2 linked regions of the Homo sapiens genome follow. The protein of the gene in region 1 interacts with the protein of each later gene in a pairwise test. Each region holds a gene or a part of one and is shown on either strand. Other genes may lie near its edges.

Region 1 (7,273 bases):
TATACTTTTAAATGGTGGATTTTATGTTACCTGAATTTTATCTCAATTTCTTAAAAATCTACCTTGAAAAACAGTGGTGGGAAGCAGTACAGAATATAATGTAACACACTTGATTTGGAATCCAAGAAACCTGGTTTTAAATCTGGGCTCCACCCAGCTATGTTATAGCATCAGGCAAGCTTTAACTGCTTTGACTCAGTTTCTTCATCCATTAAAATGCCAGCTTCATGATGTGGCTGTGAAGATTAAATGCAATCATGTATGTAAGGAGCTTTGCATACTGCCTGATATGAGATAGGCATTCAAGAAATCATTACATTGAAGAAATTTTCAATTTTCCTTCTCCTATAAATCCTTGTATGAAATCGAAATGAGTGTTGAGATGAACAAAAGACAGCTAGTTCAAGGTGAAAGGTTGGTAATTTGCTTACAAGATGAGTCTCTTCTTCATTTGGCAGCTGACTAAATTGTTAAAAGCTCAGCCTAATTGTACCTTTGCCAGGACATTTTAATGACACCATTTGTCTCTTCAGTTCTTAAGCACTTTGGGGAACCAGTAGAATACAAAGTAGAATGTCTGTGCTTTTTACCTTACTCCTACATCATCTTTCTAAAATTTAAATGTACTATCACTAACCCTGTTTTGATTTAGTTGAGGGGAGAAAAAAAGCTTAAACTTTACTTTCAGGGTCTAATTGGCTAAAGCCACTTTTCCTTTTCTGTTTCCAATACTTTTTTAAAAAAATTATAAGTTAGTAATATCTTTCTCTCTGTCTACATATTTGAACTTGGATTTAAAGCTTTCTATTTTTTTCTCTTATATATGTCTGTAGTAATCAGGTTTTCTCATTACGAAGTGCTAATGAAACCTTCAGCTTCACACTGGAAGCTTCTCAATTATTGGCATTCTGGGTGTTTTCCTAGACATTTGTTGTTTCGAACGAGTTGGCCAGTGTTTGTTGACAGAATTTTAACTGCCTGAAAAATCTGTTTCAGTAACCAGATACTCAGTCATCTGTTGGGAAAATCCCAGTCGTATGGAGTAATCCTTCCTTCTATTCTATGTTTTATAGGTCAGGCCTAGGTGAAAGGGCTGGGAGTTACAAAGGCCTGCCTGTTTACTAAGGGAATATCAGCCTGTCTTCATTTCACTGTTTCCTTTCAGGATTTCAATGATGAATTCTCAGATCTGGATGGAGTGGTTCAACAAAGAAGGCAAGACATGGAAGGATATAGCAGTTCTGGTTCTCAAACTCCTGAATCTGAGAACTCTCGAGGTTTGGGAAATTGTTGTATTTTGACTAAAATTTAATTCCCCTCAAAACATCCTCACCCCACCCCCTTAAAAAAAAAAAGAAAAGAAAAGAAAGAAAAAAACCCACATTGTCTTCCTAGTTAAAAATCAGGAATGGAATCTGGAGAAAGGATGCCTTGAGAGTTGGAGGGAAAAGAATTGCCTATGTGGTAAAAATTCATTTGCTTTTATGCACATTTAACAGAGGTCTTTTAAATAGACCTAACGTTGGGGTGGTTGAGAGAAAAAAACATACAATTTTGTTTTTGTTTTTGTTTTTGAGGCTGGAGTGCAATGGCACAATCTCGGCTCCTGCAACCTCCACCCCCCGGGTTCAAGCAATTCTCCTGTCTCAGCCTCCTGAGTAGCTGGGATTACAGGCATGCGCCATCAAGCCCGGCTAATTTTTGTTATTTTTAGTAGAGACGGGGTTTCACCATGTTGGTCAGGCTGGTCTCAAACTCCTGACCTCGTGATCCACCCACTTTGGCCTCCCAAAGTGCTGGGATTACAGGCGTGAGCCACCGCACCGGCCTATTTTCTTCCCTCTTATTTCAATAATATTTTTAATTGTTACAGCTGAATTATCCATGTGAGTTGGTTGGAAAATGAAAGACTATCCTTATATCACTTTATTACTTATTTGCTTAAGCATTCAATTTCAGCCCCAGCCACCACAACTAACTTGTGAGACCATCCATTCACATTCTTGACCATTATGCATGTTAAGGGATTGATTTACTTGGAGATTAATCCTGTTTTTAAATACATTGGAGAGAACACTTACCCAGCTCTGTTTTGGCTTAGTAGATTTCCATGCGACAGAATCCCAAACAGTTCTGAATGTCTCCAAGGGAGAAGCAAAGCCAACTCGGGCAGATGCCCATGTGAACAGAGTACCTGAAGGAAAAGCCAAGAGTCTCCCTGTACAGGGTAAGGAATGGATGTCTCAGGGGGGTGGGTTTAGAAGGATTGGAGATGTCTGTTTGTAACTTTTTTTTTTTTTTTAGACAGCATCTTGCTCTATCACCCAGGCTGCTGTAGTGCAATAACATGATCTTGGCTCACTGCAACCTCTGCCTCTTGGATTCAAGCGATTCTCGTACCTCAGCCTCCTGAGTAGCTGGGATTACAGACGCATGCCACAATGCCTAGCTAATTTTTGTATTTTTAGTAGAGACAGGGTTTCACCATTTTGGTCAGGCTAGTCTCGAACTCCTGACCTCTAGTGATCCACCCGCCTCAGCCTCCCAAAATGCTGAGATTATAGGCTTGAGCCACCATGCCCGGCCTATTTGTAACTGGGTTTCACCTTATGACTGCTTTTCATATTCCCTTTCCTCCCTTTGTATTATAGGTCTTTGCATATTAATTCACTTATTCTTTTAGCAAACAGTACCCAGTTCCGTGCTTACAGTGGGGGATACAAAAGTGAATAGCCTTCATGGAGGTCACTTCATGATTCTGAATACATGAGATTATCTTTCAAAAATTTCTGTTACTGTAACCCCAGCACTTTGGGAGTCTGCGGTGGGAGGATTGCTTGAGTCCAAGGAGTTCAAGACCAGCCTGGGCAACATAGTGAGACCCTATCTCTACAAAAAAGTTAAAAATCAGCTGGGTGTGGTACATGTTTGTAGTTCCAGCTACTTGGGAGGCTGAGGCAGGAGGATTGCTTGAGCCCAGGAGGTCAAGGCTGCAATGAGCTGTGATCACGCCACTGTCACCTGGGCAACAGAGTGAGACTATCTCAAAAAAATAAAAAATTTTCCAGTAAAACTCAAATTTCTTATTTACTAATTATTCTAATAACTAGCTATACTGGTAAGGGAGCAAGGATATTGTTATATTGTCCATCATTGATTCCAGTACAATGCTTGACACAAAGAAGGCTGTGGATAGGTATGTAATCAATGGAATGTGTTGGAAGGAATTGTAACCACTGGTTAAAATGACAACTGGGAGACTTGATATTTTCTCTGATTTCTTTTACCTGGGAACAATTACCTCTCTCAAGTACCCCATAGGGATATTGCTGGATAAAAGAAGTGTGTTATGGTTTTAAACAGTTGTTTTTTGTTTTCCTCCCAACAGGTCTGTCAGAAACTGTTGGAATCTTACATAAAGTCAAGTCTCAGAAATGTCCGATGCTTCACCATATTCTTATATTCTATGCAATTGTGTAAGTACATGAATTTACTGTGAGTGACTAAGAAAATGATTCCATTCGCTAAAGGAATAATCTCTTCACACTGCCAAGACCTACTGTAAATCTCAATTGTCTGAAATGTGACCTACATCTTTACTTTGACAATTTCTGTCTCCTACTTCAGGTTTTTTTCCTTAGGCTTAGGTCACATTTTCATGGTTGTGCCAAACCCTGCAGAGGACTAAGTTCTGAGTGGGTACCATTAGTTGGGAAATTGCTCTGTGAATTATGAAGCATCTTTACCCTTGTTATTTTTTTTACCTTATTTTTTTAATTGACATATAATCATTGTAGGTATTTATGGACTACATAGTGATGTTTTGATACATATAATGTATACTGATCAGATCCGGGTAATTAGCATATCCATCACCCTTATCATCTCTTTGTGTTGAGAACATTCAATATCCTTCTTTTAGCTATTTGAAACTCTATCATTGTTAACTTTAGTCATTCTACAGTGATATTCAACACCAGAACCTATTCCTTCTATCTAGCTATAATTTTGTTTTGCCATCTGTCCCATGTCCCCTGAACAGGGGCCAACACAACTTGAAAATGTTGTCCTCATCCCCTTTACCAAAAATGTAGGCATAGACTTTTTTAACTTCTAGCGTGTAACCAATTGTTCTTCTGAAAATAGCCTGACCCAGTTCTAGGCTGTTCCTCCCAACCAAGGAAAATATGCCCAGTCTGGTTTCCAGATAAAGGAGGGAGTCACCAGAGAACATGGCTAAGATCTGCCCAGGCTCTTCTGGCAGAGGACGGTAGTACCGCAGGGAGGAGGAACACTGGCTTGGTACTCCAACTTGGGTCTGGCTCTGACCAGTGCTATTAGAAGGGCCATTATTTGCAAATTAAGGGACTTGGGCTAGAGGATTTTAAGTCTCTTCTAGCTGTAAGTTTTATAACAAGCATCAGCCTGTTTAAAAAGGATGTTTTTAAAATCTTTTTACCAAGTTATTTTGGAAAATACCTTGCCTCGGGTGTACCACATTGGCACTGAGTTGTTTTATGAACATCAGATCCTGGCCGTTAACCTAACGAAAGTTTCTCTTTCATCCGTTTCCAGTGTCTGTGCACTAATCATCTCGACCTTCTACATGAGATACAGAATTAATACTCTGGAGGAGCAGCTGGGGTTACTAACCTCCATTGTGGACACCCATAATACTGAGTAAGACGATTGCCTCTAGCTGTCATCTGCTTGCCATTCTGCTTAATATAATAATTGACCTGAACTTAGCATCCTTCTTAGTAAACATTAATTGGAGATACATTCTGTATGTGACATTTTGTTAAGTGTATATGTGGAAAGTAAAAAGGTAGGAGGGTCTAGAAATGAATGACCTAACCCTGTACTATTTTGGAGTTGTGGTAATGTTGCTAGTAATAAGGCAAGAAACAAGCCTAATTTTACATTATCTTGCTCGAATATGCTAAGATGCAGTTGTGACCTTGCCCCATTTATTAAACTACACAAGTTTACCTTAGTAAAATGGCAATAAATCAAGACACTCAGAGAAAGAAGCAATTCAAGAAACTCAGCACATTTTATCATGTATAACTTTTTATATTAACTCACTTATTTGCAAAACTCTTGACCACTGTCAAGATCAATGTGACTAGTAATTAATTGAATGTGTCTGTGAAGATTTTCCATCAGTCTTTTTTTTAACATGCCTGGCCTAATTAAACCTTTTCAGACATAGAGCTCTTTTCTTTAAACCTATTTACAAGAAGCTTTTGACACATTGCCTAAAAAGTGAAATAATTTATGCCATGTTAGAAAGTGTACATTTAGCCCAAGTTTTTGAAGTAGAGATATTTCCTGACAGAGTATTCACCACATGCTGAAGGCTCTATTAGAATGGATACATACACATACAAATACAGATGATTTTTCCTCATTATATTTTCACCATAACCTTAGAATAGAACTGTTCCCATTTTACAGATGAAGAAACTGAGACTCAGAGTAATAATTAGTTTAATGTCTTACAGTTTGCAGATTCAGCTGCAGGTCTATATAACTACAAAGACCATGGGCTCCTCAGTCTACCAGTGGCTCTCAAATTTTAATTTGCATCAGAATTATCTAGAATTGTTTAAACAGATTTCAGGGCTCATCTCCAGAGTGCCTGATATAGTAGGTCTGGGATGAGGCCTGAGAATTTGCATTTCCAGCAAGTTCCCAGGTGGTGCTGATGGCAATGGTCTGAGCTCTATACTTTGAGAAATACTGTGTTATACCATTCTAGGACCTTTCTTTACTCCATAGGAATTACCTTTAGGTGGCTTACATGTATGCAGGCATACAGGTTATTTTTGACCCATAAATATACACTTGAACTAATAAAATACAAAAGCCTAATAAACAGTTTGGTATGGATTCATACTCTGCCCTTAGTTTCTCCCATCTTGTTCAAAAAGTTAATATTGGCATAGAGATAAGAAGTGACTCCAGGCCAGGCACAGTGGCTCACGCCTGATTATGAGACAAGGGCAATTATAGTTGTATGATAAATCTCAAAGAAGAAACTACAAAAGTCTCGTGTTTCAAGGGACATTTGATTAACTAGATAAGGACATTCCTAAACTTGTAAAGTTCTAGTATAAATAGCTCAAAAGTACAATAATTCTTGTAAGTTTATGCTCTGGTGGAGACAGAAAGGATATTAGGGGTTAATAAAAGGGTTCTAAGAAACCACGTGCTTGAAAATAATTGCCTGATTTTTGTTTAGAAGCCGAAACACACCATATCCACTTAAACAAAAATAGCTTAAGAGATTTCCCGCTGAGCTTTTAAGAATTAGTTCCCTAAACATCTAGCCTGGAGTTGCGGATTACTGCAGGGCTTTGTCTAATATTAACAAATGAAATGTTCATTCTCTTCTATTATAAACCAATTTTCTGTTCAAATAAATTTTAAATGTGTTCATTCCACTTCTTTCCTTGTCATCCCTGCCCATAATAATTTTTCTCTTTTTTCTTACAGACAGGCAGCACCATCTGGCCTGAGGTCACAAGTACAATTCAATGTGGAGGTTCTCTGTCAAGAGCTTACAGCTAACATAGTGAAATTAGAAAAGGTGACCTATTTCTTTCCTGTGTATGGGGGCAGTCACAGTAGTGCCTGTTGGTTGCCCTAGGTCAGGTCAGGGATTACACACTCAGACGCCGTTAGTGTGCCGCAATAAACCTACATGATCAACCCTGGCTAGGGGCTTTTTATAGTAAATGTGGAAGAATATTTTTTATTTCCACAAAGAAATAGGTCTTAATCTCATTTTCCTTGAAATACATAGTCTTGTAGGTCTTTTGTTCTTCCTCCTTGATTAGACATATTACTTAATAGCACAGGGCCCAGTGGTAAGTGACTACTGACATCGGAGCTTAATGTAGGGACATAGTAGGGAGTGAACTGGAGACCAACCACTGGCTTGGCCAGAAAGTACAGCCCCAACTCCACCAAGGCTGACTGTTCCCATAGGTAAAATATTGCATGTAAGTCCTATTAGAACCATGGAAGATAGACGTCATTGTTCCCTATCTGATAGGGGAAGAATCAAGAGTTTCAAATTAGCTTGCTGAAGGTGACACACCTAGAAAGGCAGCAGACGTGAGTCTGCTGAGAGAGCATTAGAAGAAAAATACATAAATAAAGTCAGCAGATCTGGAACCTGAACCAGGCCTGTCTGACTGCAAAGTTGTGCTTAGAAGCTCTCTGCTTTACTGTTCCTCAGAATTCAGCTTTAGGCTTTGTTGAT
Region 2 (8,011 bases), on another chromosome or scaffold:
TCAATATTTGGGGATTTTTGTTCACGCAGTATAATCTTGCCCATCCTCCCTGGCCCAGTGCTCATACGCCCCCTTCACAGAGCCCATAGGCACAGCACTCACCTGCTCACTCTCTGAGGTCACCGAGGTCAGGTGTGAATTCCTGGACACACAGAACTGCTCGGCACTATACCAGGTCTTTGGAATGAGAGAAAAGTAATAGAAGTTCCCCTTGAAGTACTTCCAGCCTTGAGAAACCACCTGTAGAATATCATCTAGAGAACAAGAGGTAAAAGTGAACGCTGGTATTCTTGATTTCTTGGGATGCTGGCTTGGTGGGGGCACTTGAATGAGGTCTCAGAGACAGCAGCAAATGGAGCTGTGCGCTGGTGTCCTTGGGTCCTTGTATAGGAGATTAGGGACACTCTTTCAAATCCTGAAAGTCAGACAGAGACTAATAGAGTCTCTGGGACTGGAGAGGTTATAATGCAAGAGGTTGGACAAAGAGTGTCTTCCCCATGATGAGGAAGCAACCCTCCATCGGCCATGACAAGTGGCTGAGCCCCTGGACTCTAGAAAGGAACTTGATGGGAAATGACTAGGTGTGGGCCAGGGTGGACATCCCCTAATGCTTTTACATTCTGCACTTTTGTGTGGGAGCTCTAGCTGGACCCTGGTCTCTTTTCTCCTAACAGCCCCTAAGTCCTCCCCAACCTCAAGCCCTCTCTCCTTAACTTCCTAGCCCATGGCTGCCCCTCTTTTGCCCCCACTCTCCTCCCCAACCCACCAGCCCAATGGCCTCAGGTCTGGGACAGGTAAGATCCCATGGGCCACTGGTCAGCTTCAATGTAATTTTCTGAGTCACTTACTTTGTCGTTTGAGCAACTTGCTCATATTCTCCAAGCTGCCCTGGAGTGCCCGGATCTTTGTATTTAAAGCACTGGCTTTCTCCAAATCACTTTTTAACTCTGGGATTTGGGCATTTAAGGTACTGACTTCTTCCCAACTTCTTGTTAAGATCTGGATCTGTGCGTTGGCCTTCTCCACACTGGTTTTTAACTTCAGGAACTGAGAACGCACATAACCCAGGCTCTCATTCACCATCTGGATCTGAACGCCAGCTGCCTCCATGCCGTCACTATTCTTTTTAATTTCAGAATCCAGGGTGCTGATGTTGTCCACACGACCTTTCAGCAACTGGACATTGGTCTTTACATCTGATATGGTGCCCATAAACCGGGGATCTGGGATTGAGAAAGTCAGGAGGTCAGCTGAGGGGAGTCCCAGGGACAGGAGTGGGGGTGTTGTCAGGTTGATCAAAGGAAGGGAAGGAATAGGCTGAAGCTTCCCAAAGAACCAAGACAGTCCAATGGGCCACCCCAACCCTCCAATCATTCATTAACGTACAACAAACGTGCAATGGGCACCTACCATGTGCCAGGAACACAGGTGGATACAGATAATGGGGAGATTGATAAAACACAGGCTCTCTGTGAAAAGATTTCACAGGCAAGCAGAAGCAGGAGTTAGAAACCATTCCTGAATTTTCTGAGTGTTCAGGGAACATTTGATAAAGGGTGCCCTCCATGAGCCCCACCACTGTCCCCAGAACTTGATTCCCCCTAGACCCCACCCCTTGGTTGCCATCCCTCTGTTTTCAGAAACCCCTGCAGTGGCCATCTGCTAGGACAGCACCACTCCCCCACATCTGTCCATGGGCCCCTCTGTGACCATGGGAAGAACCAGCCACTAATCTGGAAGTGGCTTCTCCAGAGAACATGGAAGAGGAGATTACAAAACTGTTTCTCCCCTTCCCTTGCCCCACCCACTTTCACATTCTGCTCAGGTCCCAGGCCTGGGTACCAGAGAGAGGATCAAAGATAAACCAAGAGGCTCAAAGGCGAGCCCTGAGGAAAATGCGATGTTAGAGGCCAGGGGTCTAGGATGGGGCAAGGGGGACTCTGCTCAGAGCCTACAAGTCTAAGCCCAAATATGTCCCGAGGCCACAGAGGGAGAAAAAAAAACCCAACAGCTTCTTGGGTCCCTTTGCTCTGCTTCCTGGAGCCCTGGCAGGAGGAAGAAGGCTCTGCCAGCAGCAAAGGCCATGAAGCCTGACAGAGCCAGAAAAGGAAGAAAGATAAACCATGCAACATCAAATGAGCAGGAAGCCTCCCTAGATGTGATCTTCACAGGGACAGGAGAATGAAGACAGCACCAACGAGTCCTGGGGAGAGGGGACTGAGTCATGGAGATCTGTTGGCTCGTTGGCCAGGCTCTCCATCTGGTGAGCTGGGGCCAATGATACATGAGGCTCGGTCCTTCACAGGGTCAGGAGACATTGCACTGTCAAGGACTGTCCACAAGGCTCTAGATCCAAGGAGCAGAGCTCAGATTGGTGGGGGGTGGACGGGGAGAAAATAGCACAGGATGTAAAACTAGATCAATGTTTCCTGAGGACAAAAGAATGTATCCTTGAGCACCAATGTGCAAATGCTAATCCCAATAATCTCCCAGAAATTGGGAGGGAAAGAGCATCAGCTCACCGTACTGGGGGCAGCACAGCCTGTTACTGCACATGGAAAGAGGAGGAAGGAGACAAATGAAAAAGCCACAGGCAGGAGAAACCCGGAGAGCAGGGAAGTGGTCTCGATCTGAAGGGAGCCGGCTGGCCACAGAGAGGGGCTAAGCCCAGACGATGAAACATGAGGACTTACAAAGGACGGCCTGCAGCAGGACGGAGGCGACCAGGACCAGCGTCAGGCAGATTAATGCAGCACGGACTGTGGGTGTTTTCCCCGGGACCAGAGATGGACCGGACTTGGGAGGAGGCTCTGTTGGAAGAAGAAGAAAATGTGTGTTGAAGGAGCAGCAAAGGGCAGGTTTGCACACAGAACACGGAGCAGGTTCTCAGCAGCGATGTGGCTTGCCTCGGGGCCAGAGGGAGATGTTCTGTTTGTCCACAGTGAAGTGCGCATCAGGGGCCTCCTTCTCCACAGTCATCCTGAGTGCTCACCCTTATCCTGGGAGCACAGGTGCTTCTGGCTGCCTGTCTCTCCAAGGGCTCTTATCTAGAGGAAACAGGAAGTCAGTCCCACAGCAGGTCACCATATCATCCCAACTTCCCTATTCCTGACTAGATACCTTGTCTGGCTTACTCCCATCCTCAGAAGTCTGAGCTTTCAGGAAGAGGCCATTTGTTGTCTTCTCTGGGGGTCTGTTACATGGATACATTAACCATCTTGTCCCAAACCTATCCCATTTCTCTTGTAAGACTCTCGTCATCCATCCACCCATCCATTCACCCCACAAATACAGGCTGAGTGCCTTCTAGGTACTGATGCTCTACCAGGCATAGGGCCACAGTGATGAATAACTCGCAGTCCTTGCACCAAGCAGCTCATAGTCTGGTAGGAAAGACAGACATGAGCAAATAAATTGCAAGGTGATGAGCACAAGAGACAAATATGCCCAGTTCAAAGAAGCATATGAAATGGAGTAATGGGAAAAAAAAAAATCCAGTAGAAAGATAAGCATATGCCAAAGGATGGAGCATAAGATAGCATGGAGTGCTTGGCAAATTGTAAATAGTTGCAATATTGCTGGAATGTAAAATATACATTCCAACAGGAAGGGGATGCACACGGGGTTGAAGAGGCACCTGGGGTCTGATGATGAAGATCCTTCTGATCATGTCAAGGAGCTGGACCTCTGGCTTGTGGGTGACATGGGGCCAATTAAGGACTTCAGGCAGGAGAGAGACAAGGACAGGGACACTGTAGAAACATCACTCTGATCCTGGTGAGGAGCAGACTGGTGGGGAGAAGCCTGGAAGCAGAGATACCAAATAGGCAACCATTGCAATAGAATATCCTGCTTCCTGTTATTAATGCATCTTGGCTGATACAATATCCCTTTATAATATGCAACTTGGAGATTCAAAGTGTAAACCTAAGACTTGGGTTCTCCTCCCTGCTTCCTGCACCATGTGAGATTTTCAAAAAAAGTAGGGGCGCTCAGCAACCTCAGACTAGGAATCGTTCTGTTTCTCTCTCCTCTCTCTCTGTCCGCACCTCCTCTCTCCTTCTTTGTAGTCCTAAATAGAGAGTTCCATATGTGCAAGAAGCTCAGGGCACAGAAGAGCTGATTTGGGCTCAATGAAGGACTAAATTTTCTCCTGGGCGGCTTCTCATGCTTTGAAGAAGTCTGCCAAATCTGAGAAATTTGGCACATGGCAGACTCTAGACAAATATTTCTTGGAATATAGGAAAGAGGAGAGGAAAGAGGGAGGGAAGGAAAGAAAAAAGAAGGAAATTGGTCCAGATAATTGGAGGATGGGTGAATGGATGAATGGATGGATAGAGGATGCATGGATGGATGTGTGAATGGTAAGTGACTTGGAGACTTGATAGCTGATCATGCCACTCAGACATTTACACAGTCTGGGGCCTGGGATCTGCCTTCTAGAAGCTGCTGCTTTTTTCCACTGTCTCCAGAAGTTCTCATTCATCTTCAATGCAAAAGCATAAGGGGAAGTGTGATTTACTCCTTACCCAGGAATGAACAAAAGCTCTGGCCGCAGGAAAAGAAAGCTGTCCTGGGCCTGCTGAGGCTGAGCCAGTGGAGCTGGATGACAGCCTGTATCAGGGACCAGGATTAGAGGTTAAGTTAACAGGGCCAAGGAAATATCTACCTATGCTTTCAGGGGCTACTGCCACCTTTGGTACTTGGGAGGATAGTGGCTGCACGCTCAGCCCATGCCTATGTGCAGCTCATTGTAGTTACAGGCCCTTGATGCTCTCTCTCCAGCTAACCGGGCCTCAGGCTGGAGTGGCTTCTCGGACTGGATGAGGGAACCCAGAGAGGACCCCACACTGGGAAGCTCTGGGAAGGAAACTGGGTAGCAAAGATGGTGTCTCATTTGTTCTGTCCCATCGCTTCCCTACCCAGCCTGTCTGTAACTTCCAGGCCTGCTGTCTGCTCTAAATTTTAACATTTGATAGTCCCGAATATGAGGGCCTGGCTCCACATCACTGCCTGCCTCTGGGTGTCCATGAAGATTCCTACTCTCTTCAGGTGGCTCGTGTGGTTGCAGAGCCTTGGTTCCATCAGGGCTTAGACAGGATTAGAATGTTCCACTTCTGGACTCTCATGCTTGGGACCCAGCCTAACTCCAGAATCATCTCTGCCCTTCTGCTCCTGGCTCCTGGCCCTTCATCCATAGCCTGTCCTATTTCTGGGCCTGGGGATAGAGAAGAATCCAAATTACTCAAGACCCTGGTAGAAGGGGCCTTGCAGGGGTCCATGTCTCCTCCTGAGGCATTTGCGGGAAAGAAGCCGCCACACAGTGTGCCTGGGAAGTGTCTTGTCCATTTCCGCTCGGTCAGGAAGTTGGGTTTTCTCTGCTGGTTTGTGGTATGAGTTATACTTTATAGAGCCCCCCAGATGCCCTCTCATTGGTCCCAGGAAAGGATGAGGAAGCCTTAGCGGCTGGGCCCATGGCATAGGAAGGGGCTGGAGCAGGGAGCATTTACTCCAAGTGATGGAAATGCAGGCTGAGGTAGGTAGAATAGCTACCGCTAGGCGAAAGGCTGTTCCAGCATGAGGAAGCTGAGCAAAGGCATGGAATCCTGGGCTGTGGGCCTTCTGGGGTTTCAGAGGAGGTGGATGTAAAAGTCCCAAACCATAGGAAGTTTCATTTCCCACTTTGTGGAGAGGGAGGGAGTCAGAAGCCATCTTCCTATTATCATGCTCATCTACAGGTCTTTCCTGAGCACCTCTCCTGTGCAAACCTCTGGATGCTCTATCTGGCACCTGGCCTGGCAGGAGAAAAGACAGAGAAGCAGGCAGGTGCCTTGGCCACACTTTCCAGTCAGGAAGGTGGGCAGTTCTCCCGGGCACTCAGACAATGCCCTGCTCTTCCAAACAGAAGAGGAACTCTGGCCAGACCTAGTGACCAAAAAAATCACCGCTGTGATGAGAACGGGAAGTCTGTGCTCATTTTTTTAGTTTCTCCTCTTCCTGTGTTCCTGGGGTTCTAATATTTTCTCTGGATAAGGATGGAGGAAGAAAACAGCTTGGTCACTTTTTCCCTTTCTCTGGTTGAGACTATGGTTGGGCCCAGCCTTATGCTTGGAGGAGAACCATGGGTTTAATCAACAAGACTGGAACAGAGACCTGGGTTGTATGAAATGCTCCAGCAGTGCCAAGAGTCATCTCCAGGGAGGAGTCACCCAAGTCCCTCAGTCAAGTCATGGAGGAAAGTAGAGTGAACACCAAATTGCGGAGTGGGGACAGGGAAGGAGAAGAGAGGGAGGAGGGGAGAATGACTCTGAAATGAGAGGAGATTACAGCTGGTCACACCTGGCTTACATAGGGACTCCTGTGATGTGATGCGGGATTTGGCCCACAGCCTCCAAAAAATCAAGGGATTCCATGCCACCCTCCGGACATGCGCCCTGGGCACAGGGGATAGGGCAGAGAAACCAAGGAGCATAGGTGGCACCATTCACTCCTCTAGTCCTGCTGTGCACTAGGTACCAGGACACAGCAAGGAAAAAGACAACCACAGACCCTGCCCTCAGGAATGGTTTTCCTATTGTTGAAAAAATATGACATCCTTAATGCTGGGGAGAAGGGAAGGCTCTCCCGAGACTAAAAATGACTGACGACACTATAGGGGCCTTCCCAGGTCTCCTTGGACCCTGATAACGGGTTCCTCTTTTATGACATTATATGAGGACAGGTCTCTTTGGAACAGTGACAATAAGCCAGACCCTACTGATCAGGGTATTTCACCCAGTGCCATCATAAATAGTGTGATATGTAAATAGGCTGGCAACCTAGCCACATGGAAGAGCTGCTGTGTACCCGGCAGAGGAGGCTGCCCCAGACTACGTCATAAGTCAAAGAACTCATGCCTATAGCCTCAGTGGGAAGGGCAAATCTATGTCAGGAAAGTAATGAAAGGCTTTTGGGAAAAAAAATGTGCATAGTTTCTTTTTAAATCTTTTATTTATTATATAATTAATGATAATTAATTATAGAAAAAAATCCAAGTAAGAAAAAAACCCACCATAGGCTGGGTGCAGTGGCTCATGTCTGTAATCCCAGCACTTTGGGAGGCCAAGGTGGGTGGATCACCTGGGGTCAGGAGGTTGAGACCAGCCTGCCCAACATAAGTGAAACTCGTCTCTACTAAAAATACAAAAATCAGCCAGGCATGGTGGTGGGTGCCTGTAGTCCCAGCTACTCGGGCGGCTGAGGCGGGAGAATCACTTGAACCTGGAAGGTGGAGATTGCAGTGAGCTGAGATTGTGCCACCGCACTCCAGCCTGGGTGATAGAGTGAGACTCTGTTTCAAAACAAAACAAAACACAACAAAACCATCGTAGAGAAAACAAATGTTGTACCCATAGTTCAGTCTTCCTAACCACCCACGTGTATATGTATACACATCTATATCTATAGCCATAGCTGTGTCTAATCATAACTATGCATATATTATATACATATTCACAACACAATTCCTGCTTATTTTCCCTAGCATCCTTCCCCACCTCTCCTGCCTTTCTTTTTTGTTTTTTTGTTTTGTTTTCTTTTGTTTGAGATAGAGTCTCACTCTGTTGCCCAGGCCGGAGTGCAGTGGCGTGATCTCGGCTCACTACAACCTCCGCCTCCAGGGTTCAAGCAATTCTCCTGCCTCACCCTCCTGAGTAGCTGGGACTACAGGCGTCTGCCACCACATCCGGCTAATTTTTTGTATTTTTAGTAGAGACGGGGTTTCACCGTGTTAACCAGGATGGTCTCAATCTCCTGACCTTGTGATCCACCTGCCTTGGCCTCCCAAAGTGCTGGGATTACAGGCGTGAGCCACTGCGCCCAACCTCTCCTGCATTTCTGATACCAAAAATCCCCCTCCATTGGGAAATTTTTTCAGTTTGTGATTCAAATGGGGCTGCTGATCCTAGATACCCGCAGGTGTAGGAGTGACAACTTGCAATGATGGGTGCCCAGGGTTTGGGTAGGAAGGTAG

Evidence for each region.
Region 2: the proteins of GRAMD2B (region 1) and CD207 interact in binary tests that used the Homo sapiens proteins (3 or more experiments, as listed by UniProt).

Annotation. Positions count from the first base shown.
Region 1 is NC_000005.10:126,482,298-126,489,570, forward strand, and holds part of GRAMD2B (GRAM domain-containing protein 2B), read left to right. Parts: intron 1-1,165; coding exon 1,166-1,277; intron 1,278-2,101; coding exon of another isoform or gene 2,102-2,104; coding exon 2,105-2,227; intron 2,228-3,388; coding exon 3,389-3,476; intron 3,477-4,575; coding exon 4,576-4,680; intron 4,681-6,501; coding exon 6,502-6,595; intron 6,596-7,273.
Region 2 is NC_000002.12:70,832,798-70,840,808, forward strand, and holds the start of CD207 (C-type lectin domain family 4 member K), read right to left. Parts: upstream 3,020-8,011; 5' UTR 2,980-3,019; coding exon 2,907-2,979; intron 2,811-2,906; coding exon 2,694-2,810; intron 1,224-2,693; coding exon 849-1,223; intron 255-848; coding exon 103-254; intron 1-102. UniProt on the Homo sapiens protein: Calcium-dependent lectin displaying mannose-binding specificity. Induces the formation of Birbeck granules (BGs); is a potent regulator of membrane superimposition and zippering.